Homo sapiens: one gene and its partners. The protein of the gene in region 1 purifies or fractionates together with the protein of each later gene. This does not show direct contact. Each region holds a gene or a part of one and is shown in the gene's direction. Other genes may lie near its edges.

Region 1 (4,287 bases):
TCCTGACCTCAAATGATCCACCCACCTTGGCCTCCCAAAGTGCTGAGATTACAGGCATGAGCCACCACACCCAGCCCCACCTATGTTACATTTCTGCCACCCTTCTGTTTCCCAAGTCATCTGGATTGTTGATTCTGCTCTTTTCCCCTCCTTCCCCTGACACTTTATTCATATATCTGATATAGCATCTGTCACAGTTTACATTGGATAGGCTTGTAGATGCCCCTTCTCCCACCAGTGTGCGAACTCTTTAGGGATAACAGAGTAAAGAGGTTAAGAATAGAGACTTTGGAATCTGCCACTTACTAGCCATGTGACCTTGAGCCAATGGCTTCTCTGAGTCTCAGATTCTTCATCCACAAAATAGAAAAGTAATGGTACCAACTCTGTTGGTTGTGAGGAAATGAGATATTATATATGTGGGACACTTAGCACAGTGCCTGGCATATAGTGAACATGCAGTAATGATTGTTTTCTTTGTACTCTCAGGGTCTGGTGCCTAATGAGTCTCAGGGTTTTGTTTTGTTTTTTGAACCAAGCTGAATAATGTAAATGGAAAAATTCTGTTTTCTCAGTGTCTTTCGGTAGATACATCTTATACCATTTTGTTCTCTTCTAAAACAGGGCTTCTTAATCTGTATAAATGAAGGAAGCCACCCCTTTTTCCCTTTTCCCCTGTAACTACCCTTTTTAGAGATTTTAGGTTTTGTTTTTGAGATGTTCTTTTGAATTCATGAAATCCAAGATGAGCCAATCAGGCCCAGCAGACCAAATTAGAGCCAGTTGATAGCATGGTGGGCAGAGAAAAGGGATCTAAGAGAGCAGAGAGGGTAGGTGCAGCCAGTGTCCCTGAGACCAGAAACTGAGCAGACATCTCCTGGCTTGCACAGGAAGGGACCAGAAACAAACTCTGGAAGAAGCCCTAGAAATGAGGCCCCAGTCTTTACCATATTGTCAGTGTAACCTTGCCTACATTACTCAGTCTCCCTGAGTCTCTGTGTCCTCACCTGTAAAATGAGCACAATGGTATCTCCTTCTGGGATGGTGGTAAGGATGATACATTCTACTTGCTGTGTAGGCACAGTGCCTGCCCATAGGAGGTACTTAGTAAATATTGGCCGCTCTACAGGGATGAGCAACTGTGGGTGTTCCTCAGTAGCTGTGACTGAATGCTAACCATATGCTGGGCCCTGGGTTCGATCTAAGTGTGTGTGATGAAAAACATAAGAAAGGGGACCAGTGAGATGTGCTAAAGTGATGTCAGGAAAGTGTGGAATCAGATGACATGGGCAGAATTAGAGAAGAATATAAATTAACAGGAAAACTTCTTTTCCTTCCCTGAGTCGATGAACCACTTGAACCACTCTGGACTTTTTTTTTGGTGGGAGGAGAAGACACGGTCTTGCTCTGTCACCCAAGCTGGAGTTCAGTGGCATGATCTCCACTCACTGCAACCTCCGCCTCCCAGGCTCAAGCAGTCCTCCCACCTCAGCCTCCCAAGTAGGTGGGACTATAGGCACATGCCACCAATCCCGGCTAATTTTTGTGTTTTTGTAGAGGCGAGGTCTCCCCATGTTGCCCAGGCTGGTCTCAGACTCTTGGGCTCAAGTGATCTGCCTGCCTTGGCCTCCCAAAGTGCTGGGATTACAGGTGTGAGCCACCGTGCCTGGCCCACTTTGGAATTTTCCAAGAGATTAAAAATCCACAAACATTTAAAATGTGGGCCAGGCACGGTGGTTCACGCCTGTAATCCCAACACTTTTGGGAGGCTGAGGTGGGCGGATCACGAGGTCAGGAGATCGAGACCATCCTGGCCAATGTGGTGAAACCCCGCCTCTACTAAAAATACAAACATTAGCTAGGCATAGTGGCATGTGCCTGTAATCCCAGTTACTCGGGAGGCTGAGGCAGGAGAATCGCTTGAACCCGAGAGGCGGAGGTTGCAGAGAGCCGAGATCGCGCCACTAGCGAGACTCCCATCTCAAAAAATATATATATATTAAAATGTGATTAATATTTAATTTTACCTCTAATTGAATGATTTACAAATAGCCTTTTGAAATACTTTTGTTTGGAAAGATTTATAATTTTGTTTTATCTTTGTCTTTTTCTCTCTCTTAACATTTTATTTTTCTTTTCCCAAAGGTGGCAGAAAGAGCACTCTATTATTGGAATAATGAATACATCATGAGTTTGATAGAAGAAAACTCTAACGTCATCCTTCCCATCATGTTTTCCAGCCTTTATAGGATTTCAAAAGAACATTGGAATCCGTAGGTTTTCAGTTTCTTTCCTCCGTTCTCTTCCTCCCTTCCTCTCTTTCTTTCCCTTCAGCCTTATTATGTGCCAGATGCTGTCCTTGTTGCTGAAGACGTATGTGAAAAGATAAAATCCTTACCTTCTGGGGATTCACTGACTGGAGAAAATAAACAGATACTTTAACAAAATACCGGTTAAAGTATCTGTTTACTAGACAGGCTTCTTGATCTGTCTATGAAGGTAGCAGATCTTTTGGGGAGGCACTGCAGCTGAGAGGAGAGGTGTGTAGATACTGACAGCATGGCCATGCTTAGACTGAATCTGAAAGGAATTTGGCAGGTGGATGGCATGGGGAGAGCCCTTTCAGACAGTGGGTCCATCCATCATGTTAAAAGGCACAAAGATGTAAAAAGCAGCTGTCAGTTTCTGAGACCTGTGAGTTTGGGAGGGCTGAGGCACAAGGTCTTTTGGGGAGGGTGCTAGAGGATGTGGCTAGAAAAGACTGTGGGACTCGTGTGAGCCTTCACCAAGTAGATGATGAGGAAGTACTGAAGGGTTGTTAAGTGGGGAAGTGGTCTGACTAGGTTTTCATTTTAGTGTGATCTATTTAACAGCCAACTCAGTCGCTATATGTATCTCTTGGAAAGGAAGGAGTTTAAAATCATCAAGGGAAGTTTAACATCCAGCCCTATGAAAGTTAAAGCATTCTGAATTTGAATGCCTTTACATTTTTCTCTGTGGAATAGAAGGAAAATTTAATGTGGTATTTAAAAATTGGGAGATACAATTCAGTATATTCATAATATGTTTATCTTTAAAAATTTTGCATGTAATTATAAAATATCACATTTCTAATTTTTCAAATTTGCCTAATTATATTAATAGAACTTGTAAAAATAAGGAGCTGATAAACAGTTAAGTCCCTTTATACAGATAGTCTCTTGAGGACCTAGAGAACGGTTCTAGCAAGTGTCTGTAACTACTCAGTATACTACATTTGGTGCTTTCCCATCACTGCCCTTGGGAGGAAGGTCATTCTGGAACCTTAACAGAAAAGAACTTAAATTTTCCTTTTAATGGCACAAGGCAGAAGCTACACAGCAAGTGTACTTTCTTGTAAATGTTTTGGAAACATCAGACTCATGGTTTATTTAATATATGGCTAATTTTTACCAATGCATTTTTCAGTGGTATTAGGAGCATGTTTGTTGCAAAACGGAAGCAACGGATATTTTTGCAAAAGGAAAAGCTATTTAGACTCTAGTCTGAAGCTATCAAGCCCATCATAACCTTGTCCTCACATTGCCCAAGAGCTAATTCTTGTTAAGTATGGGCTACCATTTTGGCTGTTTAGCTGTATAGTGTCCCATAGCTAATAGCAACCATCCCAGCTTGCCAGTTATCAGCATATATTTTGGGTCAGCAGGACTGGTGCAGATCAGAGCTAGACAGATAATTCATATTGAACCACCCAACCTACATGAGGGCTTGATTTCATTTCTTTGGATAAGAATAATTTATATATATACACATATATATATAACATTTGTTTCTAGGGAAGTAGCTTCTGATTTTGATGAATTATGTGTTATTTAGAAAATAGAATTCTATGCAAATTCAGATGTCTAAGGTTAGTGCTATCACAGATCCTTATTTTAGGGTGAAATTGCTTTACTATTATACTTGCCTTTTTATTAAATGAAATTATCAAATGCCCACAGGCAGCTCTATTCTGGGTGCCAATAATTAGAAGGGCAGGCCAGGTGTGGTGGCTCACGCCTATAATCCCAGCACTTTGGGAGGCCGAGGCAGGCAGATCACCTGAGGTTGGGAGTTCGAGACCAGCCTGACCAACATGGAGAAACCTCGTCTCTACTAAAAATACAAAATTAGCCAGGTGTGGTGGCTCGCTTCTGTAATCCCAGCTACCCAGGAGACTGAGGCAGGAGAATTGCTTGAACCCAAGAGGCGGAGGTTGCGGTGAGCCAAGATGGTGCCATTGCACTCCAGCCTGGGCAACAAGAGCGA
Region 2 (4,287 bases), on another chromosome or scaffold:
TTAAAAGACAAAGTAAGTAAAAATACTTTTAGTAGGCATTCGTGGATTGTGAACATCCAAGTTATATTGGTTTGTATAGAATGGCATTAAGTAAAAATTACAGCTGTATAACAGTAGTTTTCTAAATTGAGAGAGTCCACATTGTAATTAGAGATCACTGTGACCAAAATGCTTCTCCTTGATTTATAATGATGTACTGTATTTTGTACTGCTTATATGAAATTTCAGCAAGATTGACGATATTATAAAGATGCTTATAAAGTGTAAGTGGAGACGCTAAATTGTGAGTACAAAGTTTCTTTTTCACAACAGTGATAAGAAAATATCTTTAAAAAATATAAGACAATATAAACATGTCATCATTAGTTTAGCTACTATTAAAATGTAACATCTAGAAAGTACTGATCTCCACCTTCAGACTTCTGTATAAGTATATTTTTTCACTGATCTGTTCATTAGAGTTCTTCCAGCCAAGACTCTGGGCTCTTAAAACATGTATCTGAAAACTAAAAACAAGTTAATTTTTTTAAAAGCTTCTCTATTTCTAGTGATTCAATAGGTAGAAAAATAGCTTCTAGAATTAACTGCAATGCTTTCTAAGGAAATTTTATAAATCCTCAAGGTCGGTTTACACATATTTTTCCAGATTCAGAGCACTAACTATCTTGTAAGATGTAAGAAAAGGTCCATTTGGAAGTATGAGTAATAAATGTCTGGGATAATTCTGGTTTATTTCGTATTATCCTTGTTAGAATAAGTTATATGGTCAACCTGTTCAGAACACTTTTTCTAGTGTTAGTGTGTACTTTTGGATTTTTGGTTCTTGTAGGGTATAGAAATATTTTCCTTTGTCTTGTATTCTGTTGTTTTGAATGAATAAAACACAATGTTTCACGATCACTACTTTCATTTGCCATGGAGAAATAGCAGGGAAAAATTTCTACAGAATAAAATTAACTGATGAATTACATGCAGAAAAAATTCAAATCAATGATACATTGTAATTTTTATCTCAATGCAATGTTCTTTGTATTTTATTTTATTATTATTTTTTTGAGACGGAGTTTCACTTTTGTTGCCCGGGCTGGAGTGCAATGGCACAATCTCGGCTCACCACAACCTCTGCCTCCCGGATTCAAGTGATTCTCCTGCCTCAGCCTCCTGAATAGCTGGGATTACAGGCATATGCCAACATGCCTGGCTAATTTTGTATTTTTAGTGGAGACGGGGTTTCTCCACGTTGGTCAGACTTGTCTTGAACTCTGGACCTCAGGTGATCCACCTGCCTCAGCCTCCTAAATTGCTGGGATTACAGGCATGAGCGACCACTCCTGGCCTTGTTCTTTGTATTTTATAAGTGCATGTAGTGCAAAGGGTCAAAGGGCTTTACAGGTTTTTTGTTTGTTTGTTTTTGTTTTTCCCGAAACATAGTAGTCCCTTGCCCTTCCTCATTTTTGTTACCTTGAGACAACAAATTTTACTACTTCTAACTCATTATTTTATTTATGTTCACTTTTCTGAATAGCATGCTTATGACACTAATACTTTTTTTTTCAATTTTAGACATTCATTATTCATTTAGATGTCTTTCTCTCCCCAAACTCACCACATAAAATACTCTTCTCATGTCTCTTTCAGAAATATTTGTATTAAAATATGATTATATCAATATTTGGCATTTATTTCTTATGACCTTGCCAGTACTCTTAGTTAAACTACATGGTAAAAATGATTTTGCTTTCCCTCCTACATAACTTTTTTTCCACCTAGAGCTAATAATTGTCATTCTGGGGACTGACTTTTTCTGTATTTACCATAAATTGACCTGAAACTCCCCTGTGATGCAGCAGGAATTCTACCAACGTCAACTTCCTTAGAAAGACTCCATTAGAAGCTTGACTTGGGGCTAGAAGGAGAGGCACACAACTGCCATCCTGGTGTCTCCCTTCATCCAGAAAAAGGGGGAGGAATACATGAAACCTAGAATCCACTCTAAAACATTTTCCAGAACAAAAGGACATGTGTTTCCGTGTTGTAAATGTTTAACGAGTGCCCATAACAAGGAATAATAAGTCTATTATGTTTGCTTTTGTGTCTGTAAAAGTTGGGGGTATTGGTTGTAAGCACGAAAACAGATACTGACTGTTGAAGAAAAAAAAAAATACGAGGTCAGGAGTTTGAGACCAACTTGGCCAATATGGTGAAACCCTGTCTTAGTAAAAATAGAAAAATTAGCCAGGCCTGGTGGCACGCACCTGTAGTCCCAGCTACTTGGGAGGCTGAGGCAGAAGAATCGCTTGAACCCGGGAGGCAGAGGTTGCAGTGAGCCAAGATCGCACCACTGCACTCCACCCTGGGCAACAGAGCGAGACTCCGTCTCAAAAAAAAAAAAAAAAAAAAAAAAAAAAAGTTAAGTATTTGAACATAGGGGTGGCTCATAGAATTCCCAGGACACCCGATGGAGTAGGCTTGCAAAACACAACATGTGGCAACTCCAGTGGGAAACGAGGCAGGAAACACTCGTTTCCTGCAGAAAGCAACAATTTGGGCTTCGATACCCTCCCTAGAACACAGGGCAGTGAATCTGAGCAGCATCAGTACCCCACGTTCGGATGAGTCCTGAGCCCCTATTTTTATTCACTGACTTATTCCAAAATCAGTGTCTCTTAAATATATCTGGAAGGCAGCAGCTTGTATCTCCCCCTTCAGCTTCCATAGTGGCAGTCAGGGTACAACTTACTTTCCAAACAGAACACACTGCGACATTCCCTCCAGGCTCGTTGAAGAACTTCAACTGACAAATGTCCCTCCTCGACCAGATGATAGTTTTCTTAAAGGCAGGGTTTAATATACCCTTTTATAAATGTTTCAAGGCCCTGTGTAATACCTGAGTTTATTCCAGATGTAACTAAATATATCCAAGATTGTTTTAAAATAAATTGCTGAAAAAACAAATAAATACAGTTAGTATCTATATCAATATTCTCAGTTGGCAGTTTTGCAATAATGGCCGATAGTTCATTTTTAGTAACACTATTGACATTGCATTTGGATATTAGGGTTTACTAATCATCCGCATGTATACATTGCATATTTTTCTAGACTTTAACTTTATTCAAATCTATTGATTTTTAAACCTGCAACTTATGTCTAGACACAGGTATACCTTTACAAGAACTACCATTTTTTTTGGTAACATACTACCTCCAAAATTTCAAGTAAGAAGTTGATTTTTGTCCATTTTTAAATGGAAAACTTGTAATCAAAATGCCACAAAATTATACTGTGTATCATTTGACCTATAGAAACCAATATTATTACAGGAAGAAAGCAGAGCCAATCTTCTACCTGTGGTCAAATAAGTGGAGGCCCTTTCTAGACTAAGTTCTCATGAGTTTAAAATACCAAGCATAAGTTCTCCAAATTCCTGAAAAGGAAGCCTTGTGTTGTATTGCCCAGCCATATTTGTAAGACATAAAAATAAAACTTGAGAAGAAGCTATGATAACTTACTTTCTTCATTCTTCAAAATTTACATAATCTCAACTGATTTTATGTTTTTATGAAAATGCATTCTTAAGATATATCCTTATTCAATCATGTATTCATTACATCCTTTATGCCAGGTATCCAAAAGTACTTACAGTGACTAAGACCATTATTCTTTGATCAGCTGCCTGAGTAAGACTTTGAGCTCTCCAATATACTCTCAGTGATACTAAGTTTTCTGAGTAACAGCTTTGGATGTGGCTTCAGTTGAGCTGATTTATCCCACACTTTATTTTTATCGTATAATGGTCCTCAGAAGCAAATTTTGATTTTAGCTCACATAAAAAATGTACAAAGAAATGTAATGGCTCAGTAGCTTCTAGAGATAGAGATTACTCTTCTAACCTTTCTGTAATTTTGTATGTCTATTTTATAATTCTTTCAATGTCTAATGAATAGCTATCTTTTTTTGAGACGGAGTCTCGCTCTGTCGCCCAGGCTGGAGTGCAGTGGTGCGACCTCGGCTCACCGCAAGCTGCGTCTTCCAGGTTCACGCCATTCTCCTGCCTCAGCCTCCCGAGTAGCTGGGACTTCAGGCGCCCACCACCATGCCCAGCTAATTTTTTTGTATTTTTAGTAGAGACGGGGTTTCACCGTGTTAGCCAGGGTGGTCTCGATCTCCTGACCTCGTGATCCGCCCGCCTCGGCCTCCCAACGTGCTGGGATTACAGGAGTGAGCCACCGCGCCCGGCCTCCTTAGTTTCTTAAGGTGGAAGCCTAGATTATTGATTTTATATGT
Region 3 (4,287 bases), on another chromosome or scaffold:
GGCTAATACAGTAAAACTATAGAGGGAACTTTAAATCCTACAGCTAATAGGCTGATTTTGAAAGTGAAACATAAAATGTTTATATAAATTAAGCTTGTTTCAGGATGCAAAAAAAAAAAACCTCAAGAAAAAAAGCAGAAGTTTTTAAAGAAAATAGCAAAAGTCAAAGAAATAAATTACAGAACATAGAAATGGTGGTGTTGATGTTTATATAATACATCCAGAAAGAAGTAGAAACTTAAACCTAACTTTAGAATTAGCTTTATAAAGCTACACATACAAATGCTATAATATGTGAGATTGATTGGGAAAACCAGGAATTGAATTTTTTTTAATAATTCTTGCTTATCTATCTCTCTCTAGTTATTGTGACCAACTGAAAGTCTCAGAGAGTACCCACGTGCTCCAGCCCTTCCTCCCCAGCATCCTTGATGGCTTAATTCACCTAGCAGCCCAGTTCAGCTCAGAGGTCCTCAACCTGGTGATGGAGACCCTGTGCATCGTTTGTACAGTAGACCCCGAATTCACAGCAAGCATGGAAAGCAAAATCTGCCCCTTCACCATCGCCATTTTCCTAAAGTACAGTAATGGTATGCTGCCAGGGAGGATGTATTATGAGGGGCACCAAAGAAAAGGTGGTGGCTGGTGAATTTAAATGAAAGATTCCCTAGGTCTGGTCTTAGCTATGAAGCTATGGTTTTAACATCGTAAGCAAAGAATCTGGCTTTCAATTAGCAAAAAATAGAATTGTGCTGTAAATGTAGCAGCATTAAAAAATAGAGTACCTATTTCTGTAACACTTACTCTCTAGTAAGGACTTAGGGATAAAGATAATAAATAAAGGGCTAATAAGCAAGAGACATAATTCAGAACTTTGATGATAGAATAGGAAATTGGGCAAATGAAAAGCCTCCTAAAAGAAAAGGGCTAGGACTATAATTTAGAAAAGGAGATACTAAAGAAAGATATATGGAAAAGTTTATAAACAAAGGTATTCACTAGATATTTTTTACAGTAGTAAAAATTTGGAAATTATAAAAAGACATTAGTTAATTATATCCATAAAATGAAATACTGTGCAGCCATTAAAAATCAAGCTTAAAAGGAATATCTGAAACCATGGGAAAGAGCTTACATTATAATAAATGAAAAGATACTTTTCCCAAAAAATCCATAGAATATGATCCCAAGTTTTGATTTTTCTTTTAGAAAAGCATGTATGTATAGATAGGTATGTTTTAAAAAAAAATACATCAAAATGTTGAGTGTTTAGGTAGTGGAATTACAGGTGTTTTCATTATTACTTTTCTGCATTTTAAGTTTTTTTTTTCCTGTAGTGAATGTATTTATTAATACCTTATTACTAGTAAAATATTAAGGATTCTTTTTTTAAAGAGAGAGCTCCAATATTGAAGCTCAGAAAGATGTACAGGATAAGGATTATTTATATAATGTGATATACTGAACATGTTATTTGATAGCTTTTTCACTGAAAAATGTGTACTGAGGAGCTTTCCACATTGTGTTCTTGGATATATCTCATTCTTTTCAGCCATTACTAATGTTCCATAAAATGGGTATATCATAATTTACCCATTCTGTTAATGGACATCTAGGGTATTCCCAATTTTTTTCTATTACAAACAATGCTGCAGTGATCTTTTAAGGTATACTTTAATGCACATTGCCTATATTTTTCCATACTAAATAGAGGAGGATGTTTTGTTCTATAGATAAAGAAGATTGAGCTAAAGTTCCCTTTCTTCATAAGGCTCTGCTTTTTAGGAGTTTTGCCTTTTGCCCCAGAAGTAGCTTTGAGAGTTCTTCATGTCTACCGTGGCTACCCCATAGGAGATATGTATGATTTCTCTCATGCATCAAAGCCAGTGTTTTGGCAATTTTTGCAGCTTTCATGTCTTCTTAAAGTATCAGTTGGGCTTTTTTTTTTTTTTTAAGCATTTGGTTTTATAACGTAGGTTTCACAAGAATAAAGACTTTAAAGATTTTTCTCTAGAAAAAGCCACATTTTGTTTTATGAGTAGCTGTTAATGACTAGTCCCTACTTTAATGAAGCCATACAAAGTGTACCTCTTGCAGATTTAGGATCTCTCCTGTTCTTTCAGGTTATTCATGTGGCCCCACTAGGTCCCGGGTATGTGATAAGTAATCAATGCAGAAGTTGTTAACTTAGGTTAGGGCCAAACAACAGGCATCATTAAGCGAGAAGCAGATGCAGACCATCAGGCAGGGGGATTCCGTGTTGCCTTATCCACTTCAGATCCCGTCGTCGCCTCACTGGCTCAGGACATCTTCAAGGAGCTGTCCCAGATTGAAGCCTGTCAGGGCCCAATGCAAATGAGGCTGATTCCCACTCTGGTCAGCATAATGCAGGCCCCAGCAGACAAGATTCCTGCAGGGCTTTGTGCGGTAAGTGGCCGTGTGTGTGTGTGTGTGTGTGTGAGAGAGATCTACAAGTGCCACCCACAGATGCATCTAGCTGACAAGAACCTAATAGCGTTAGAGATTCATGGGGTGATTTTGCTGAGCTCTTTTGCCTGCAAGGACAGTGGGTGATTCTCTGAAGCTTTAAGAAAATGGCTTGGCTTGGCGCGGTGGCTCATGCCTATAATTGCAGCACTTTGGGAGGCCGAGGTGGGTGGATCACAAGGTCAGGAGTTCGAGACCAGCCTGGCCAATGTGGTGAAACCCTATCTCTACTAAAAATACAAAAATTAGCCGGGCATGGTGGCAGGCATCTGCAGTACCAGCTACTCAAGAGGCTGAGGCAGGAGAATCACTTGAACCCAGGAGGCAGAGGTTGCAGTGAGTGGAGATCGTGCCACTGCACTCCAGCCTGGGTGACAGAGCGAGACTGCCTCAAAAAGAAAGAAAGAAAGAAAATGGCTCTTCTTGTTCCAGAGGTACCCTCAGTGAATTGAACAGAGTGCCACCTTTACACAGTGCCACTAAGTATGTCACCTGGTTATCCAATCCACTACCATGTACTACTGCCCACCCCTATGGCTAATCAATTAGTAAGCTATTATGAGAAGGCTGAGAGTACTACCCATTTAATTATTCCTTTTATTTTGGAAACTTGCCTTTCATTAATAAGCTTTCTCTGGGTTGCTATGTAATACCCATCCAGTAAGGATCTTGGTTGTTGGGCAACCCCCACCCCAGAGGCAATTCTGACTTTTCTTTTTCTTCTCTCTTTCAGACAGCCATTGATATCCTGACAACAGTAGTACGAAATACAAAGCCTCCCCTTTCCCAGCTTCTCATCTGCCAAGCTTTCCCTGCTGTGGCACAGTGTACCCTTCACACAGATGACAATGCCACCATGCAGGTATCTGAGACATGGAGAGTAGAAGAGGGAAGATAGCTCCCCAGCCATGGGCTTATACTATGCTGAGAAATCTGACATGGTTTTATGCTTTTGAAATACGGAATTCTCAACTCCATATTTACTTAGCAGATTCAGGAAGGGTTCAGTCTGCAAAAGCCAAGCATTTCTGGTGCTTTGGAGCATGTTACAGTTTTTAAAAATATGGATACCAAGCACCCTGCCCATCTGTATTGGGTATTGCTACTGTGAAAGAGGTTACAGACATCTAGACTTGGGGCCATAAGAAAGTCTTTCTGCATATTTCTTCTAGTAATAAAGTCAGCAGAGTGATGGGCCTCTAGAGAGGGGAGACATGCCTGAATATTTTTTCTCTTTTTGTTTCTTGGGTGAATTGGTTACCTTTTCAGGTGTCTGCTACTGTGATTGATTAGAAAGGTTATAGGAACTTGCCAGTGAATATTGATCAGCTTGGAAATCCCTAGGCAACTAGTGGTTTGTGTAAGACCTATATAAAGACCTACAGTATCCCCAGTTATTCCAAGATTGTAAGCATATTTTTTTAGTACCAGAGGTAGACCTTTATGATTAAAATTCATTTTGCTTGGCCATTGTCCCTTGTGATTAAAAAAATATATATACACATTTGTGAGATAGCTGATTAGGTAAAGGGGGAATTATGTAATGCACGTCTATGTCTGTAACAGTAAATGTCTTAACTCCAGTGGTATGAGCCCACCACAAACATTATAGACTCACCGCTTTTATGAGGCATAGGCCTCTGGGAACATTTGTTTATACAGACTGAGGGCCTTCTGGCATCTGTCCCTCGATTACTAATCTTGCTTGCCACCCCTGTCTCCCCAGAATGGCGGAGAGTGCTTGCGGGCCTATGTGTCAGTGACCCTGGAACAAGTAGCCCAGTGGCATGATGAGCAGGG
Region 4 (4,287 bases), on another chromosome or scaffold:
CTCTGCCTCTCTGGTTCAAGCAGTTCTTCTGCCTCAGCCTCCCAAGTAGCTGAGATTACAGGCGCCCACCACCACACCCAGCTAATATTTTGTATTTTTAATAGAGATGGGGTTTCACCATTTTGGCCAGGCTGGTCTTGAACTCCTGACCTCAGGTGATCCACCCTCCTTGGCCTCCCAAAGTGTTGGGATTACAGGCGTTAGCCACCACGCCCAGCCTAAAGCTCATATTTCTATTGAGATATGAGGCTTAATAAATATAGCATATGGGTTGAGCATGGTGGCTTATGCCTGTAATCCTAGCACCTGGGAGGCTGAGGTGGGAGGATCCCTCGAACCCAGGAGGTCGAGATTGCAGTGAGCTGTGATTGTGCCACTGTGCTCCAACCTGGGTGACAGAGTGAGACTCTGTGTCAAAAAAAGCATATGCTTATAATAGGACATATACCAAGTCTGTTCTAAAATGCTTTACATATATTAATTCATTTAACCTTCCCAACAACTCTGGGAAGTAGGTGCTATTCTTTCTATTTTACAGTTAAAGAAACCGAAGTCACACAGCTAATAAAGGTAGAGCTGAGATTCAAACCGAGCTGCTACAGTACTCTCAACCATGCCACTAACCACCTTTCTGATTTACTGAATGATAACAGCAGTGACTCTGAATTCAGTACATCTTGCATTATAATTTTGACTTTTTCTCTTTTTTGTATACTCCTTCCACTGCAGACCCAGTTTTCAAAATATGCTACCTACAGTAAAAATCTAATGTAACGTATTTAGCTCATTTTTTCCCCCCACCAAGCTTCTGTTTTAAAGTAGTTTTTATTATCCTTTACAGAATTAAACTGAATATTCTCCTCAAATAAGTTCATCAGTGGCTTTGGGGGCTGTATGGGTGAGTTATTAGGCATTATACCCTTAAATATTTTAGCATAAAAGGATTGAAAAAAGTACCTATTAATGCACTACTCTAGCTTTTTTTTCCCTATTTTTTTCTGGTCTTTATAGCTCGGTTTCAAACTATTACAATCATGAAGTGACATTAATATTTTTTTTCTTTGCATGATTTTTGTGTTTGTCTTTTTTTGTTGTTGTTTTTGAGAGAGGGTCTCACTCTGTCACCCAGGTTGTAGTGCAATGGCACAATCTCAGCTCACTGCAACCTCCACCTCCCAAGCTCAAGTGATCCTCCCACCTCAGCCTCCCAAGTAGCTGGGACTACAGGCATGTGCCACCATGCCCAGCAGTTTTTTGTATTTCTTTGTAGAGATGGGGTTTTGCCATGTTGCCCAGGCTGGTATCCAACTCCTGAGCTCAAGCAACCTGCCCACCTCGGCCTCCCAAAGTGCTGGGATGACTAGCATGAGCCACAGTGCCAGCCTGTGTTTGTCTTCTAATACTAAAATTACAGTGTACATCAAATAGGAAAAGGTTAGGGATAGTTCAGCACTTCTTTTTTATTTGTTGAATAGTTGTTCTTTATTAACATTGTCCCTGACTTGCCTTTTCATCCAGAATTTTCCTCTGCTAGATATATTTTCATTCAAAATACCAAAGAGTAACCAACGTACCTAAATTTTTGTTCTTTTCCGTCAACACTTTAGGAAGCAGGTAACATAAATCGATCATTGAGCTGCCTGGGCCAAGTGATTACAGCACTTGTCGACGTGGGTAATGGAAAACAGAGACATGTTTGCTACAGAGACTCCAAACTTACCTTCTTACTACGGGTAAAGTAGATCCTTGGGTTCCTGGGCTCCTTTTGGTTATGCTAAAGTTGATAGTGGGACAGTCTCTCAGCCTTGGTGGCAAGAGTATACATTTTCTTTGCTTAAAAAGGTCTTGTGATTTCTCACCGAAAATATGTTCATTCCTATCATTAAACAGGATTCCCTTGGAGGTAATGCCAAAACAGCCATAATTGCAAATGTTCATCCTGGATCCAGGTGTTTTGGGGAAACCCTATCAACACTTAACTTTGCTCAAAGAGCCAAGCTGATTAAAAACAAGGTAAAATACTGGCGTATACTTCATTAAATAAATGAGAAAAATACTAAAGCTTACAGTATGCCATTTTTGTGATTGCCCTAATATTAACATTAACTTTTATTTATTTCTCATTGTATGCAAAATTTCTATTTTATCTTTCCTACCCTTCTATATCACACATGTAATTAGAGACCTAGGTTAGATCTTATGGTTGTTATTGCTTGACTAGTTTTTTCTTTTTTTTTGAGACACAGTCTTGCTGTGTCACCCAGGCTGGAGTGCAGTGGTGCAAACACAGCTCACTCTAGCCTCAACTTCCTGGGCTCAAGCGATCCTCCTGCCTCAGCCTCCTGTGTAGCTGGAACTACAGGCATGCAGCACCATGCCAGGCTAATTTTTTTATTTTTTTAATTTTTATTTTATTTATTTTTTATTTATTTATTTTTTTGAGACAGAGTCTTGCTCTGTCACCCAGGCTAGAGTGCAGTGGTGCGATCTCTGCTCAGCTGGGACTACAGGCGCCCACCACCACGCCCGGCTAATTTTTTGTATTTTTTAGTAGAGACGGGATTTCACCGTGTTAGCCAGGATGATCTCGATCTCCTGACCTCGTGATCCGTCTGCCTTGGCCTTAATTTTTTTATTTTTTGTACAGGTAGGATCTCACTTTGTTGCCCAGGCTCGTCTCAAACTCCTAGGTTCAAGCAGTCCTCCTGCCTCATCCTTTCAAAGTGCTGGGATTACAGGTGTGAACCACTGTACCCAGCTGACAAATTTTTTCTTAAGGGAAAGCAAATTAAGTATGTGAGTCTTTCTTCCTGCCAACAGCCAATCAATCAGTTCTGCAGCAGACATCAGCTGAGTGTCTTCTGATTCAGTTCCATCCTGACACTTTATGTCTGGAGATAGGGTGAGATCTCACAGGTTCAGGGCTCAGTCCTACAAGACTGCGCCCAACTTCTGATGCCAATTGCAAGCCCCAGCTTGTCCTATCTGTGCTTTCAGACCAACTGGCTGTAAATCAGGAGGTCCATGTTGCCCCTTTCCCTGGGTAAATCAGAAGACTATAGATCTAGTCATTTATTTTATTTCCTTGGACTATGGAGTACTAGTAAGATGAGGAGGAAAAATCATTAGAGCTTCCTGACCCTAAGTCTCTTAAGATTTACTAGAAGTCTTTGGAGATATAGAACTGCAGCAATAATTAGAATTATGAAGTCACTGATGGGACAGTGATGTCAGAAGTGCAGTAGTACCTTGTAATGAGGCTGGCCATAAGAATCAGAAGCAACTGGAAATGGCTGCTTAACACACAAAAGAACAAAACCAAGAGCCTTCTACTAGTCACTCTCAATGGTAAGCCCTTTGCAGCCTATCAGTGGAAAGTGCCAGAGTATCTGGGACTTGTTTAAGGATGTGCTATTTAAATTTTTCCGTGAGCAAATTGGGCTTACAGCGAGAATACAGAAGACCTTGGGGCTGTCACAGGGTGTTTTTTCCTTGCTGGAGTACTGAGTATTTCACAACTGAGTCCTCTGACCTGGTTGGTACTCAGCTGTTGGCACTCGTTATCACCCTTTAGGCTTTGTGGACCTTTTTAAAGCTTTATTTTTTTAATTAATCAACTTTTTTTTTTTTTTTGAGATAGAGTCTCGCTCTGTCAACAGGCTGGAGTGCAGTGGCGCACATGTGTGACCTGCCCCACTCTTGACATCCTGCCCCACAGTGGCACATTTTGTTTGTGAGTCCTTTAGCCTTTTAGAAGTTGTCCTAAATAAGACATTTCTTTAAGAAAATGAAGATAATCATTTAGTGTGGTAAAAAATTAAAAAAAAAAAAAAAAAGGAAGTGTCAAACCAACCCCTCCTTCCAAGAGGGCTGTTAAAAAATAAAGGTCGGATTCCTCTGGAGAAGGTTGCTTCTGCCAAGCTCAAGCCCACCCTGCAAGTCATCATGCACTTAGAGGCTAGGCTCCTTCCCCGTAGGGAGCTAGGAAAGAAGGGAAATGATACTCACTGAGGTATTGGCTCTTCTCCATTGGGAGGGTGGGGGAAGGCTGTCGTTCTCAGGGAAAGAAGTATTAGGTGAACACACCCGGATCCTAAGGGTGACCCAGCCTAAAAGCTCAGGGCTAGTCAGCTGGGGGGCAGAGAGCCTGGCTGGGGCTGTCTCTCTCTGGCTCCAGGTCTGAAGGCACAAGAAAAGGAAGCTTCCTCCCCACTTGAGCACACTGTGATTCCTGTGTCCTTTTGACTATGATGTGGTCTTGAAGTTTTGTTTGATGTTCATCACTAC
Region 5 (4,287 bases), on another chromosome or scaffold:
GGCTGGACACTGAAATTTAACACAATTCTCTGTAGGTTATGGGTGATCAATGCGTTCTGTATTGACAACTGTCAAGCAACTATTTAAACAGTATCTCTGCATAATGAGATGTAGTGGTTAGCTCAGGCAGCTCAAATATTGTGAATTGTAGGAAAACCGAAGATAATGCCTACTAATTCTGCTCTGTTGGGTTATACTTCTCCCCTTTTAGATAAAATGCCTAAAATCACTTACTAAAAAAGACAGTAGGTTTTAGGATATTGCTTGTAATTTTAACTAACAAAGGCAAAAGCCACCTTAGTAGAGAGGACACCATTTCACTTGTTTTTAAGGAGAGAAAACCGTGTTCATGTTCTTGATGTAGCAAAGCCTGATTTTCATGTCAACTTATGAGAGATTTATGATCAGTACTAAGTTTCCTGGCAAATACCTGTCTGGATACTTCTGAGACTGCATTCAAGTTTGTCAGTCTTGACTTCCTTCTAACTTTTACTTTGATTATCAACCTTTACCAGAGAGGTGAGCACTACAGGTGTTCTGATTGCTGCCACTACAGACTATTCCCTCCCCATTATTGTCAATACTCCTTTCAGAGTAGTGCCTTCTAAATATATAAGGGTAAACTTACAAGCCGTCTGAGGTTTTATCGGCTAATTTCCCCAAAGCAGATCAAATCCTCTTTTTGAACCCCTTGGTACGATGTACTTACTAATAATGCTTCAGACTTGTATTTTATTTTATTTATTTCTGTACTTAAATTATAACGTCTCAAGGGTTAAATCCTTTTATGTATTTATTTATTTATTTATTTATTGCTTCTCTTCTTGCACTGTACCTTGCCCTTCAGTAAGCATTTCTTTTTCATAGTTGAAGAAATGTATTGGAAGAAGGAACAGAGAAACCATTTACAAAAGAAAAGAAAAACCATTTACACAGATTATCTCTAATGGATAAAGGGAACTTTATCATACACACACACATACATACATATATGAGCATGTATATTCTAATAAGCAAACTGCAGATGACAAATTCTAAGTGCAGAATTATTTAATACCTCAAATCTTCCAGTCCTATCATCTTCTCATGTAACTGCCATGTTCTGCCTATGCGTTCATCCTGCCTTTCCCCCACTCTGCCTCTGCTACTCCTTCAGGTCTCACTCTTCTCTTGTGTGCTCCTTTACCTTTCTGATCTCCTTTTCCACTGTACTCTGCCCAGGGCTCCTGACTAGCCATAATAGAGCAAGCTGTGGCCCACCATTATTTAAAATTCTGTTTCAAATTATTATGAATTTACTTACTTTAAATATAGATACTTAATTTTATATTATGTAGTCAAAATCTTAAAAGTTAAAAAATGTATCCGACACCTGTTAAAGGACCATGGCAGTGGGGCTGATTAGATCTGTATAATGCTGAAACCCTGATTCCTCCTGTTCTCTCAATCATTGAGTATACTAGCTTTGCAGGGTTGGCGTGTAGGCTTCTTGGACTTTTATTTCATGAAATAACCACTCTTGTAGTAGGGTTTTTTGTATGATTAAGCTAAAACCACTGACCAACCAAGTTCGTAATCCCTCAAAAATATGTGGAAATATTTATTTCACTTCTCTGAGCCCTAGTTTCCTCATCTAAAAGATAAGAATAGTAGTAACACCTATTGTGATATAGACAAGGAATCACTCAGTCCCTGGTAGACCTTCAATAAATATTGTTAATGATTCCTTTTTATTTGATTCCAGATTTAATATTTTTTTCTTGGCAAAAGGAAGTTTTGTTTTAAGCAGGGTTTTTTTTTTTTCATTTAATTTTGGACAGTGTAAGGAGTTTCTTCAAATGGCTTTATGAGTAAGTTTGAGTTAAAGAAAATTAGATTTGTGATACCCTGCAAAAAGTAAGGGTGTCAGAACAAACTTTGATTTTATGAAGCCTGCCTAGAAGTCTGAGGCAAACCACAGGAATGTAAAGTGGTAGAGAAGTCAGCATGATTTCTTTTTTTAATGTTTGCGGTGAAAAGTATGTCATATACCTTTCTTTCTTTGAGACAGGGTCTTGCTCTGTCAGGCTGGAGTGCAGTGGCGCGACCACAGCTTACCACAGCCTCTAACTCCTGGGCGCGACCATGGCTTACCACAGCCTTTATCGCCTGGGCTCAAGTGATTCTCCTCCCTCAGCCTCTCCAGTAGCTGGGACTGCAAGCACACACCACCATGCCTGGTTAATTTTATATTTTTTGGAGAGACAGGGTCTTGATGTGTTTATAATACACTTTTCAGTGATGACTCCTGAAGACTCATATATCTGCATTTCATGAAGAAGTTAACCTTATTCACAGAAATTTCTGTTATTTGGGAGTTGTTCTGTAACTTTGCATCCTGCTTTATTTTTTCACTTAACATAGCATTATCAACAAAAAAGAATCACTGTAAAATAAATTTGGTAATTCTGTAGTTCATTGGATATTTATTGGTCATTCCCCGCTTGATGGCATGAAGTAAGCTCATGTGTCTAAAGCACTTAGAACACTCCTTATACATAATAAATACTATACTGTGTATATGTTTGGTCAAGATTATAATTTTTAAGTTGTTTTTCCAGTTACTAAGTTTTATTCATATGTCCAAACAATATATATGTGTAGTCTTTCTGTATTTGTTACTGTTATTTACCATCTTTATCAGTGTCATTTCATAAAAGGACTGGTTTGGAGGCAAGTACTTAAGGAGGATTGGGAACTTATTGATTCCTCCCATTATGAGTATTTGAGGGAGAGCACCTGTGATTTTTTTTTTTAAGGAAACATGAGCTTTGAGTGTATTGTTCCAATAAAAGGTTTAAACATGTGACATTAGAGTCCGTCTTAATCCAAAATTGTCTGGCTATATGGAGTGAATTGTCATGGCTTTCATATACTGCTATGAGGTAAAATTAAACTGCACTTCCTAACATTGCTGGAATTGCTAAATTTCTGGAATGTATTCCCTTCACCTTCTTCAAGGTGCTAATTAGAAACAGGTAAATTTTTGTTTAAGTAAATACAGTGCAATTCTTTGTGAATTCTATGGTATTCATGATGATTTATTTATTTACTTGTTTAAGATAGAGTCTCATTCTGTCACCCAATCTGGAATGCAGTGGTGCGATCTCAGCTCAGTGCAACCTCTGCCTCCTGGGTTCAAGCGATTCTCCTGCCTCAGCCTCCTGAGGAGCTGGGATTACAAATGTCTGCCACCACACCCAGTTAATTTTTGTATTTTTAGAGAGAGGGAGTTTCACCATGTTGGGCAGGCTGGTCTGGAACTCCTGAGCTCAAGTGATTGCCCACCTCGGCCTCCCAAAGTGTTGAGATTACAGGCATGAGCCACCACACCTGGCCATCATTACAATTGTTTTGTTTGTTTGTTTGTTTTGTTTTGTTTTGTTTTTTGGAGACAGAGTCTCACTCTGTCATCCAGGCTGGAGTGCAGTAGTACGATCTCAGCTCACTGCAACCTCCGCTTCCCGGACTCAAGCAATTCTCCTGCCTCAGCCTCCCGAGTAGCCGGGATTACAGGCGCACACCACCACGCCTGGCTAATTTTTGTGTTTTAGTAGAGACGGGGTTTAACCATGTTGGCCAAGCTAGTCTTGAACTCCTGACCTCAGGTGATCCACCCACCTTGGCCTCCCAAGGTGCTGGGATTACAGGCGTGAGCCACCACGCCTGGCCCATTACAAATTTTTTAAGCATGATACAGTCACATGGCCAGAGTTAATAATCACTAGAATGAAGAAGTATTGGCATATTAACAAACACATTTGCTTTTTCCACTTAAAATTAGACTCATCCATCTCCCCCAACTCAAAAATGAAACAAAGATGGAGGGAGAACGGAATTGGGAAGGTAAGTGTCAGTTTGAGCAGTAAACCTCCCAAAATCAGCTTTATTTCTTAGCCTGTGTAAAAATTTAAAGCACACTCTAACATGTTTGTTATGGTCTTTTACTTTGCTTCCCATCCTTCAAAATCATGTGTCTTTCCTGCTTTATTTTTTATTTCAGCATAAAGATGCCTATCAAGTGATATTGGATGGTGTGAAAGGTGGTACTAAGGAAAAGCGATTAGCAGCTCAATTTATTCCGAAATTCTTTAAGCATTTTCCAGAATTGGCTGATTCTGCTATCAATGCACAGTTAGACCTCTGTGAGGATGAAGATGTATCTGTAAGTTTATGAATGACACTTCATAGCAATCTTTCAGATGTTTCTGTATGTGGCTGATACAATTGGAGTAGCAATCTGATATA
Region 6 (3,982 bases), on another chromosome or scaffold:
AGTTGTGCTTTTTTGGCAAATATTTCACAGAAATTATATGTCCTTCTTGCCTCATTTCAAGGCTTCATCATGTCAGTGTGTTTCATTACTAGTCATGTTAGCCTTGATTCCTTGGTTAAGGTGGTGTCTGTTGGGTTTTTTAACTGTGAAGTCACAATCTTTTCCTCTATTGTTAATGAACATGGGAGGGAGATACTTTGAGTCTATATATTCCATTTCTCAAACTTTCACCCACTAATTTTAGCATCCATTGGTGGATCTTGCCTGCAACAGTACTACTGTGGGTACTACTAGTAGTGATTTTTGATTTCTCCCTTTCCTTCTACATTAATTGGAATTCATCTGTAAGGAAGAGTTGTCTTTTCTATAGATATAGATATAGATATAGATATAGATATATATCGTGGGTATCTCTTTTGTTCTATAGATGAAAGTCCAATGCCATCAATATTTATCTTGTTGCTCAAGTTATTCCAACTTTGACCACTAAGAGTTCCTTCAGGTTGGCTTCCGTGTCCTTTTGACATGACTTCATACTATTTGGAGCACTTTCTTACTTTCTGACACACAGGATGTTCCAGTATGTCATAGTGGCTTAATCCTAGTGGCTTAAGTAGCAATCTGGATGCAGCTTAATTAGGTGCTCTGCTTAGGGTCTGACAAAGCTGCACTAAAGGTGTCGTCCAGGCTGGTTCTCATCTGGAGGCTGTGCTGGGGAAGAATCTGCTTCCAAGTCACACAGGTTGTTGGCAGAATTCATTTCCTTGTGGTTCTGGACAGAGGGCTTCATCTTCTTCTTGTTGACTAGAGGCTGTCCTTAGCTTCTTGCCACACGGCCTCCTTTACAGCATGGCCACTTACTTCAAAGCCAGCTGTGGAGAATCTCTAGAGCAAGTCCTGTAGCAGGATAGAGTCTTATATAACAAAATGTCATCTCGGAAGTGAGACATCTCATCACCTTTGCCAGTGGTCTCCTTGTTTATTGTAGAGGATCTATAGTATGTTTTAATGTCTGGTAGGGCTAGTATCCTCTCATGGTTTTTCTTTTTCATTGTTTCCCTCACTGTTCTTGAATGTTTGTTGTTACAAATGAATCTTAGGATGGTATTGACTTGTCTGGCTCGGTTTCATAACCTTGGCACTGTTGACCTTTGGGGCTAGGTATTTCTCTTTTATGGGAGGCTGTCCTGTGTATTGTAGGATGTTTAGCTGTATCCCTGACCTCCATCCACTAGATGTCAGTAGCACCCTCACATTTATAACAACCAAAAATGTCTCCATATGTTGCAAAATTTCAACTGGGAGGCAAAAGCATCCTGAGTTGAAAACCACTGGTCTATAAGTATTTAGTTTTCTTTGTTGCTATTATATATGGACATGTAACTGATGCCCAATGTTGTTCGTATATATGAAAGCTGTTGAATTCTGTGTCAGTTTATATCTTGTTACTTTCTGAACTCTGTTATTCTCTTATCTCACTGATTGTCTTGAGTTCTCCAGGTATAGTATGATATCATCTGAAAATAGAGATAGTTTTACTTCATTACCCTGTTTGTATGCCTCTTACTGTTTTTATATTAGCATTGGCTAATAACTCAGGTACAATGTTAAAATAGTAGCAGGAATAGTAGGCATGCTTGCCTTGTTCCTGATTTTAGTAGAAATGCTTCTGTTGAAGTATTTTTGTCTCTCCATTAAACAAGATACTTGCTGTAGGATTAAGATATGTACATAATTTACTAAGAAAATGCCCCTTGATGCCTATTGAGTGTTTTTATCATGAATGATTGTTGAATTTTGTCAAAGGCTTGTTCAGCATTTATGAAGATAGTAATATACTTCATTTACTTACATGTATTAACATGGCATCTGTTGATGAGTTTTCCAGTACCGAACTAACCTTGCTTTCCTGGAATAAATCTCACTTGATCACGGAGTATGTTTTTCATAATGTGATGTTGAATTGAGTTTGCCAAAATATTTTGTTTAGAATTTTTATATCAACATTCATAACTGATGTGAGTCTATAGTTACCCACCTTTGAATTGTCTTTATCTGGCCTAGGTATCATATTAAGGGAATCAAGAAAGTCACCATCTTGGTTCCTTTAATGAAATAATTTATATTTCATTATAATTTATAGTGCATTATAATTTATGTTTATAATTATTTGTATGTTATATACTTATATAATTTTAGAACAGTGGGACTCTCTGGTTTTTGTAAGTTTGTTAGCATCCCCCTCTGAAACCATCTGGACCTAGTACTGTTTTGTGTGGGATAGTTCCTTAATAACGTTGACTGTTTTTTGTGTGTATGAAAATTAGTCTGTTTAAGCTTTTTTGCTGTAATGGGGTCAATTTTTGTTATTTGTATTTCCACAGGAAATTATCCATTTCATCTAAGATTTCAAATTTATTTGCATAAAAGTCTGCAAAGTATCTTTTATGAATTAGACATGTAAATTAATTTTAAATCTTTTTTCCCATAATTATTTTACCTATATCATTTATTATTTTTTGTGTTTGTTCTTTTTCTCTTTTTCTTGATCAAATTAGGTAGTAGTTTATTTATTAACTTTTCCAAAAAATCAGTACTTTGATTTACTAATTGGATCTATTTTTCTGTTCTCTACTTCACTGACTTCTGCTTCATATTTATTATTTCCTTCTTTGTGTTTTCTTTGATTTACTTTATTATTGTTGTTTTCCCATTAAAATTTATTGTTTTTATTCTTTCATTTATATAGATAACAGTGTTTTATGGACAGGCACAGTGGCTCACACCTGTAATCCCAATACTTTGGGTGGCTGAGGTGAGAGGATCACTTGAGCCCAAGAGTCGGAGACCAGCCTGGGCAACACAGGGAGACGCTCACTCTACAAAAAATTTAAAAATCAGCCAGGCACATTGGCATGTGCTTGTAGTCCCAGCTGCTACTAGAGAGGCTGAGGTGGGAGGATAGTTTGGGCCTGGTAGGTCAAGGCTGCAGTGAGCCATGATTGTGCCACTGCACAGAGAAAGATCCTGACTCAAAAAATTAAAAATAAAAATAAGTAAATAGAACACACACAAAAAAATTTTTTTTTAAAGTGTCTTTTGCAATCAATTTTTCTCTGATCAGTGCTTTCAATGTATCTTGATTCTGATACATAGTGTTTTCAATGTCGTTTTTAAGTTTCTCCTTTTCTTTAGGAGTTATTAGGAGGTTTTAAAAATTCCAGGTAGATGAACCTTTCTGGTTTTTTGTTTTTATTTGTAAATCTAGTTTTATTGCATTTTGGTCAGAAATTATTTATTGTAATATTTCTGCTTTATGGAAATTGCCAGTATTTTCTTTGTGACCTACTATAGGATCAGCATTTATAACTGTGCTGTGATTGCTTAGATGTATATTCTCCATAATCAAGGTCTAAAGTTTGATATATATCCATGAGATTTACTGTATTTATTATGTTGCTTAGATCTTCTGTTTCTTATTTTTTGTAAATAAGTGATCTGTTTTGTACTAAGGTTATACTAAGAGTTGTATATTAAAATCTACTGTGTCCTGTGTTTCCATGTATCTCCTGTAGTTTTTGCTTCAGAAGGGTGGTTGCTCTGCTTTTTGCTATGTAAATATCATGATTATTACTTATTCATTTTGGATTATGGCCTTTATTATATTAAAAATGTCCTCATTTGTCATGTTCAGTGCTCTGGACTAAAGACTTAAAGTCTTTAAGATATAAAGACTTTAAAAACATATTTATGAGACCTTCCTGATAACTCCTACCACTCCTATCTTCAATACCTATGATGATCATTCCATAATAGCAAGCAGCTTTAATTAGGATGTACTTTCATGGGAGCTACTAGAAGCTGTGATATACCTAGTGTATACCATTTCCAATCCAAAAAGAAGGAAGAAAAAAAAGTGGCAACTGGATGGTCATCACTCGGAATTTATACTGAATGTTGTGGCTTTTGCTTTTAAAAATTT
Region 7 (4,287 bases), on another chromosome or scaffold:
TTTTTTTTTTGAGACAGTCTCAAAAAAAAGAGACGGGGTTTCACCATATTGGCCAGGCTGGTCTTGAACTCCTGACCTCAGGTGATCCGCCCGCCTCAGCCTCCCAAAGTGCTGGGATTACCGGCATGAGCCACCCCGCCCGACCAGTTTTTCTTTTTTTTTTTAAAGAATTTTTTTTTGGCCGCGCGTGGTGGCTCAACGCCTGTAATCTCCCGGGTTCAAGTGATTCTCCTGCCTCAGCCTCCCAAGTAGCTGGGAACTACAGGCGCGTGCCACCACGCTAACTAATTTTGTATTTTTAGTAGAGACGGGGTTTCACCATTTTGGTCAAGCTGGTCTCGAACTCCTGACCTCATGTGATCCACCTGCCTCGGCCTCCAAAAGTGCTGGGATTATAGGCATGAGCCACTGCGCCTGGCAGTAAGCCTGTTTCTTTTCAGAATGTTTTGGTCAACAGGGAAAGTGTTACAATAGTCATGTGCTTGGATTTGGAGAGAATCGAAATAGACTGTTTTTCTTTATGTGAAATCTTGTAGACTTTTAGGGTAGTCAGGAAGATGCATTTGACATGAAGAAAAAACAGTGGCTGCAGGAATTTGAATGTGATCTGGGTGTAGTTGAGGTGTGTGGTGGCAGCACACCGCTCTGCACCTCTCTGCCTGCTGGCGGCCTTCTGGCAGTGGGATGAGAATCGGGAGGTAAGTAAAGGGAATTTTGTTTTGCTGCCTCCCTGAAGGAGCTGAATGAGCAGCATGTGCTCCTAGTACGTAATTTTAGCATGTGCTCTGTCAGATGTGTTGAGAGGAAAGTGATGCTTATTGTGTATATTAACCATATTAGGTTCCTTTTTTTAAAAAAAGTGGAAATTTGTCAGGGTATGGTGGCTCACACCTGTAATCCCAACACTTTGGGAGGCCAAGGCGGGCGGATCACCCGAGGTCGGGAATTGGAGACCAGCCTGGCCGACATGACGAAACCCCGTCTCTACTGAAAATACAAAAATAGCCAGCGTGGTGGCGTGCGCCTGTAATCCCAGCTACTCGAAGGCTGAGACAGGAGAATCACTTGAACCCGGGAGACGGAGGTTGCAGTGAGCTGAGATCGCACCATTGCACTCCAGCTTGGGAGGCAGAGTGAGACTCCATCAAAAAAAAAAGGTGGAAGGTCTGTTAGATTGAGCTGCTTTCTCTGTAGCAAGGGTTTCCTGCCTCTGACGATAGTATTCTCACTGGGAAGCCAGAATTCGGGTTTGCCTGCCTTGGGCCGGCATTTGTCGTGCCCTGAAGCAGCACAAGTGGCATTGGCTTTTCAGCTCAGGTGGTCTGAGGTGTGGCTGCCCTCGTCTACTGCCCATGCTGTCCTCACAGACCTTTCAGAGAAGAGGTGTTAGTCTCCAGGGTCTCACCCACTCCCACCTGTGCTTTTGTCCTGCTAGAGACCTCTACCGTATTTACTTGGAACTAACTTATTTGACACTTTGTGGCCTCATTTTGTCTCTGGCAGATATCAACCTGAATTCTCCTAACAAAGGTCTGCTGTCTGACTCCATGACGGATGTTCCTGTCGACACAGGTGTGGCTGCCCGGACTCCTGCTGTTGAGGGTCTGACAGAGGCTGAGGAGGAGGAGCTCAGGGCTGAGCTTACCAAGGTGCTGTGGCTTGGCTGTCTGTCCTGGGGTGAATTGGAGTTAAGGCCCTCTTGGATTAGTGAGAGGCCAGGGTACTGGCCACGCTCGGGAGGAATTGCCCTGGGTGGTCACCTACCCTGCTCTGTGTTCCGACTGATAACGGGGTTCTCTTTGTATGTGCCCAGCTCCATGCACTGGACTCAGAGCCACCTGGCAGTGGAGACAGGGCATGACTCCCTTCCCATACCTCTGTGCCTGGCCCTTCCTAAGTGCTCCCTGAGGAGTGTTCACACATGAACCGCCTCTGAGCAGCCATCTGCTGGGAGTGTCTCTGTTGGAATTAACACTTGATAATCATTTTTAAGACCCCATGAATCTTTCTTGTCCTGGATCTTAAGTTTTCTTTTAAACATATTTATTTTGGCTGGATGCAGTGGCTCATGCCTGTAATTCCAGCGCCTTAGGAGGACAGGGTGGTAAGGTGGGAAGATCACTTGAGCCCAGGAGTTTGAGAGCAGCCTGGGCAACACAGTGAGACCTTGTCTCTACCCCCAAAAATTAGCCAGGTGTGGTGGCATGTGCCTGTAGTCCCAGCTACTCAGGAGGCTGAGGTGAGAGGATTGCTTGAGGCCAGGAGGTCAAGGCTTCAGTGAGCTGTGATTGCATCCTGCACAGCAGCCTGGGTGACAGGGCGAGACCCTGTCTCAAAAACAAAACAAAAACTTCTTTTCTAAAAAGTATTTATGTGATCTTCTTTAAGTGAGAGTCCCTTAAGAGTAATGTAGGAATTAAGAACAAAAGCCTCCAACCATAATTTTTAGTCAAACCAACTGCCAAGAGTTTTCTTTTCACCCTGTGATGTGGTTTAATTCCAGAATCTGGGTCCAGGCCTAGGTCTGAGTAAGGTTGGTTGTGCCGCTGAGTCTGAGGACCAGGTTTCAGATCCTGAGGACATCACACAGCTATTTCTAGCCTAGAAGATTAAAGGAGAGTAGCAGGAAGTCCAAGGACACTTTGCTTTCCATTTAACTTCAGAATATGTGAGTTTAGAAACTAAATCCACAAGGTTTTTTTCAGAGTTGAATTACAATAAGGTGAAGTTTTTTTTTTTTTTTTTTTTTTTTTGAGTCGGAGTCTCTGCCGCCCAGGCTGGAGTGCAGTGGCGCAATCTCGGCTCACTGCAACCTCCAACACCCGGGTTCACGCCATTCTCCTGCCTCAGCCTCCTGAGTAGCTGGGACTACAGGCGCCCACCACCACGCCCGGCTAATTTTTTTGTGTTTTTAGTCGAGATGGGGTTTGTTTTTTTTTTTTGGAGACAGAGTCTCGCCCTGTCGCCCAGGCTGGAGTGCAATGGTGTGATCTCGGCTCGCTGCAATCTCCGCCTCCCAGGTTCAAGCGATTCTCCTGCCTCAGCCTCCCGAATATCTGGGATTACAGGCGCGTGCCTCCCTGCCCATCTAATTTTCGTATTTTTAGTAGAGACAGAGTTTCACCATGTTGGCCAGGCTGATCTCAAACTCCTGATCTTGTGATCCACCCACCTTGGCCTCCCAGAGTGCTGGGATTACAGGTGTGAGCCACTGTGCCCGGCCCCTACAAGGTGAAGTTCTGTATTGCTTTTTTTTGTTGTTTTTCTTGAGACAGAGTCTTGCTCTGTCGCCCAGGCTAGAGTGCAGTGGCGTGATCTCAGCTCACTGGAGCCTCTGCCTCCCTGGTTCAAGTGATTTTCATGCCTCAGCCTCCCAAGTAGGTGGGATTACAGACGCCTGCCACCACACCTGGCTAATTTTTGTATTTTTAGTAGAGACAGAGTTTCACCATGTTGGCCAGGCTGGTCCCGAACTCCGAGTCTCAAGAGCTCCACCTGGCTCAGCCTCCCGAAGTGCTAGGATTACAAATGCGAGCCGCTGTACCCAGCCAAGAAAGAGAATTTTTTTTTTTTTAAGGACGGAGTCTCACTCTGTCGCCCAGGCTGGAGTGCAGTGGCGTGATCTGGGCTCACTGCAGCCTCCACCTCCTGAGTTGAAGTGATTCTCTTGCCTCAGCCTCCCGAGTAGCTGGGATTACAGGCGCACAGCACCATGCCTGGCTAATTTTTGTATTTTTAGTAGAGACGGAGTTTCACCACGTTGGCCAGGTTGGTCTCGAACTCCAGACCTCAGGTAATCTGCCTGCCTCAGCCTCCCATAGTGCTGGGATTACACGCAAGAAAGAGTTTTTTTTTTTTTTTGAGACTTTTTGCTCTTGTTGCCCAGGCTGGAGTGGAATGGTGCGATCTTGGCTCACTGCAGCCTCTGCCTCCCAGGTTCAAGTGATTCTCCTGTCTCAGCCTCCCGAGTACCTGGGGTTACAGGTGCATGCCACCACGCCTGGCTAATTTTTGTATTTTTGGTAGAGACGGCCTTTCATCATATTGGTCAGGCTGGTCTCGGACTCCTGACCTCAGGTGATCTGCCCGCCTCGGCCTCCCAAAGTGCTGGGATTACAGGCATGAGCTATCGTACCCGGCCAAGAAAGAGAATTTTTAAAGAGAAGCTAGTCATATATGAGCTGAAGATACTGAGAACTCATTCTAAAGTGGTAAAGCTTTGAATGATGCCCCTTTCAGAGGTCATGTTCTTTTTTTTTTTTTTTTTTTTTAAAGACCTGAGAAAGT

The links.
Region 2: the proteins of PPP2R5E (region 1) and CD226 purify together in Homo sapiens (co-immunoprecipitation; one large-scale study listed by IntAct). This does not show direct contact.
Region 3: the proteins of PPP2R5E (region 1) and IPO9 fractionate together in Homo sapiens (co-fractionation; one large-scale study listed by BioGRID). This does not show direct contact.
Region 4: the proteins of PPP2R5E (region 1) and KIF15 fractionate together in Homo sapiens (co-fractionation; one large-scale study listed by BioGRID). This does not show direct contact.
Region 5: the proteins of PPP2R5E (region 1) and API5 fractionate together in Homo sapiens (co-fractionation; one large-scale study listed by BioGRID). This does not show direct contact.
Region 6: the proteins of PPP2R5E (region 1) and SGO2 purify together in Homo sapiens (co-immunoprecipitation; one study listed by IntAct). This does not show direct contact.
Region 7: the proteins of PPP2R5E (region 1) and TPD52L2 fractionate together in Homo sapiens (co-fractionation; one large-scale study listed by BioGRID). This does not show direct contact.

The regions. Positions count from the first base shown.
Region 1 is NC_000014.9:63,382,430-63,386,716, reverse strand, and holds part of PPP2R5E (serine/threonine-protein phosphatase 2A 56 kDa regulatory subunit epsilon isoform), read left to right. Parts: intron 1-2,145; coding exon 2,146-2,273; intron 2,274-4,287. UniProt on the Homo sapiens protein: The B regulatory subunit might modulate substrate selectivity and catalytic activity, and might also direct the localization of the catalytic enzyme to a particular subcellular compartment.
Region 2 is NC_000018.10:69,856,841-69,861,127, reverse strand, and holds part of CD226 (CD226 antigen isoform a precursor), read left to right. Parts: 3' UTR 1-4,287.
Region 3 is NC_000001.11:201,866,370-201,870,656, forward strand, and holds part of IPO9 (importin-9), read left to right. Parts: intron 1-363; coding exon 364-590; intron 591-2,278; coding exon 2,279-2,427; intron 2,428-3,220; coding exon 3,221-3,349; intron 3,350-4,213; coding exon 4,214-4,287. UniProt on the Homo sapiens protein: Nuclear transport receptor that mediates nuclear import of proteins, such as histones, proteasome and actin. Serves as receptor for nuclear localization signals (NLS) in cargo substrates.
Region 4 is NC_000003.12:44,795,944-44,800,230, forward strand, and holds part of KIF15 (kinesin-like protein KIF15), read left to right. Parts: intron 1-1,607; coding exon 1,608-1,733; intron 1,734-1,890; coding exon 1,891-2,013; intron 2,014-3,251; exon of another isoform or gene 3,252-3,345; coding exon of another isoform or gene 3,346-3,348; intron 3,349-4,287. UniProt on the Homo sapiens protein: Plus-end directed kinesin-like motor enzyme involved in mitotic spindle assembly.
Region 5 is NC_000011.10:43,314,598-43,318,884, forward strand, and holds part of API5 (apoptosis inhibitor 5), read left to right. Parts: intron 1-3,823; exon of another isoform or gene 3,824-3,885; intron 3,886-4,042; coding exon 4,043-4,204; intron 4,205-4,287. UniProt on the Homo sapiens protein: Antiapoptotic factor that may have a role in protein assembly. Negatively regulates ACIN1. By binding to ACIN1, it suppresses ACIN1 cleavage from CASP3 and ACIN1-mediated DNA fragmentation. Also known to efficiently suppress E2F1-induced apoptosis.
Region 6 is NC_000002.12:200,577,786-200,581,767, forward strand, and holds part of SGO2 (shugoshin 2), read left to right. Parts: intron 1-2,749; coding exon of another isoform or gene 2,750-2,753; exon of another isoform or gene 2,754-2,883; intron 2,884-3,982. UniProt on the Homo sapiens protein: Cooperates with PPP2CA to protect centromeric cohesin from separase-mediated cleavage in oocytes specifically during meiosis I. Has a crucial role in protecting REC8 at centromeres from cleavage by separase.
Region 7 is NC_000020.11:63,867,793-63,872,079, forward strand, and holds part of TPD52L2 (tumor protein D54), read left to right. Parts: intron 1-1,503; coding exon 1,504-1,649; intron 1,650-4,287.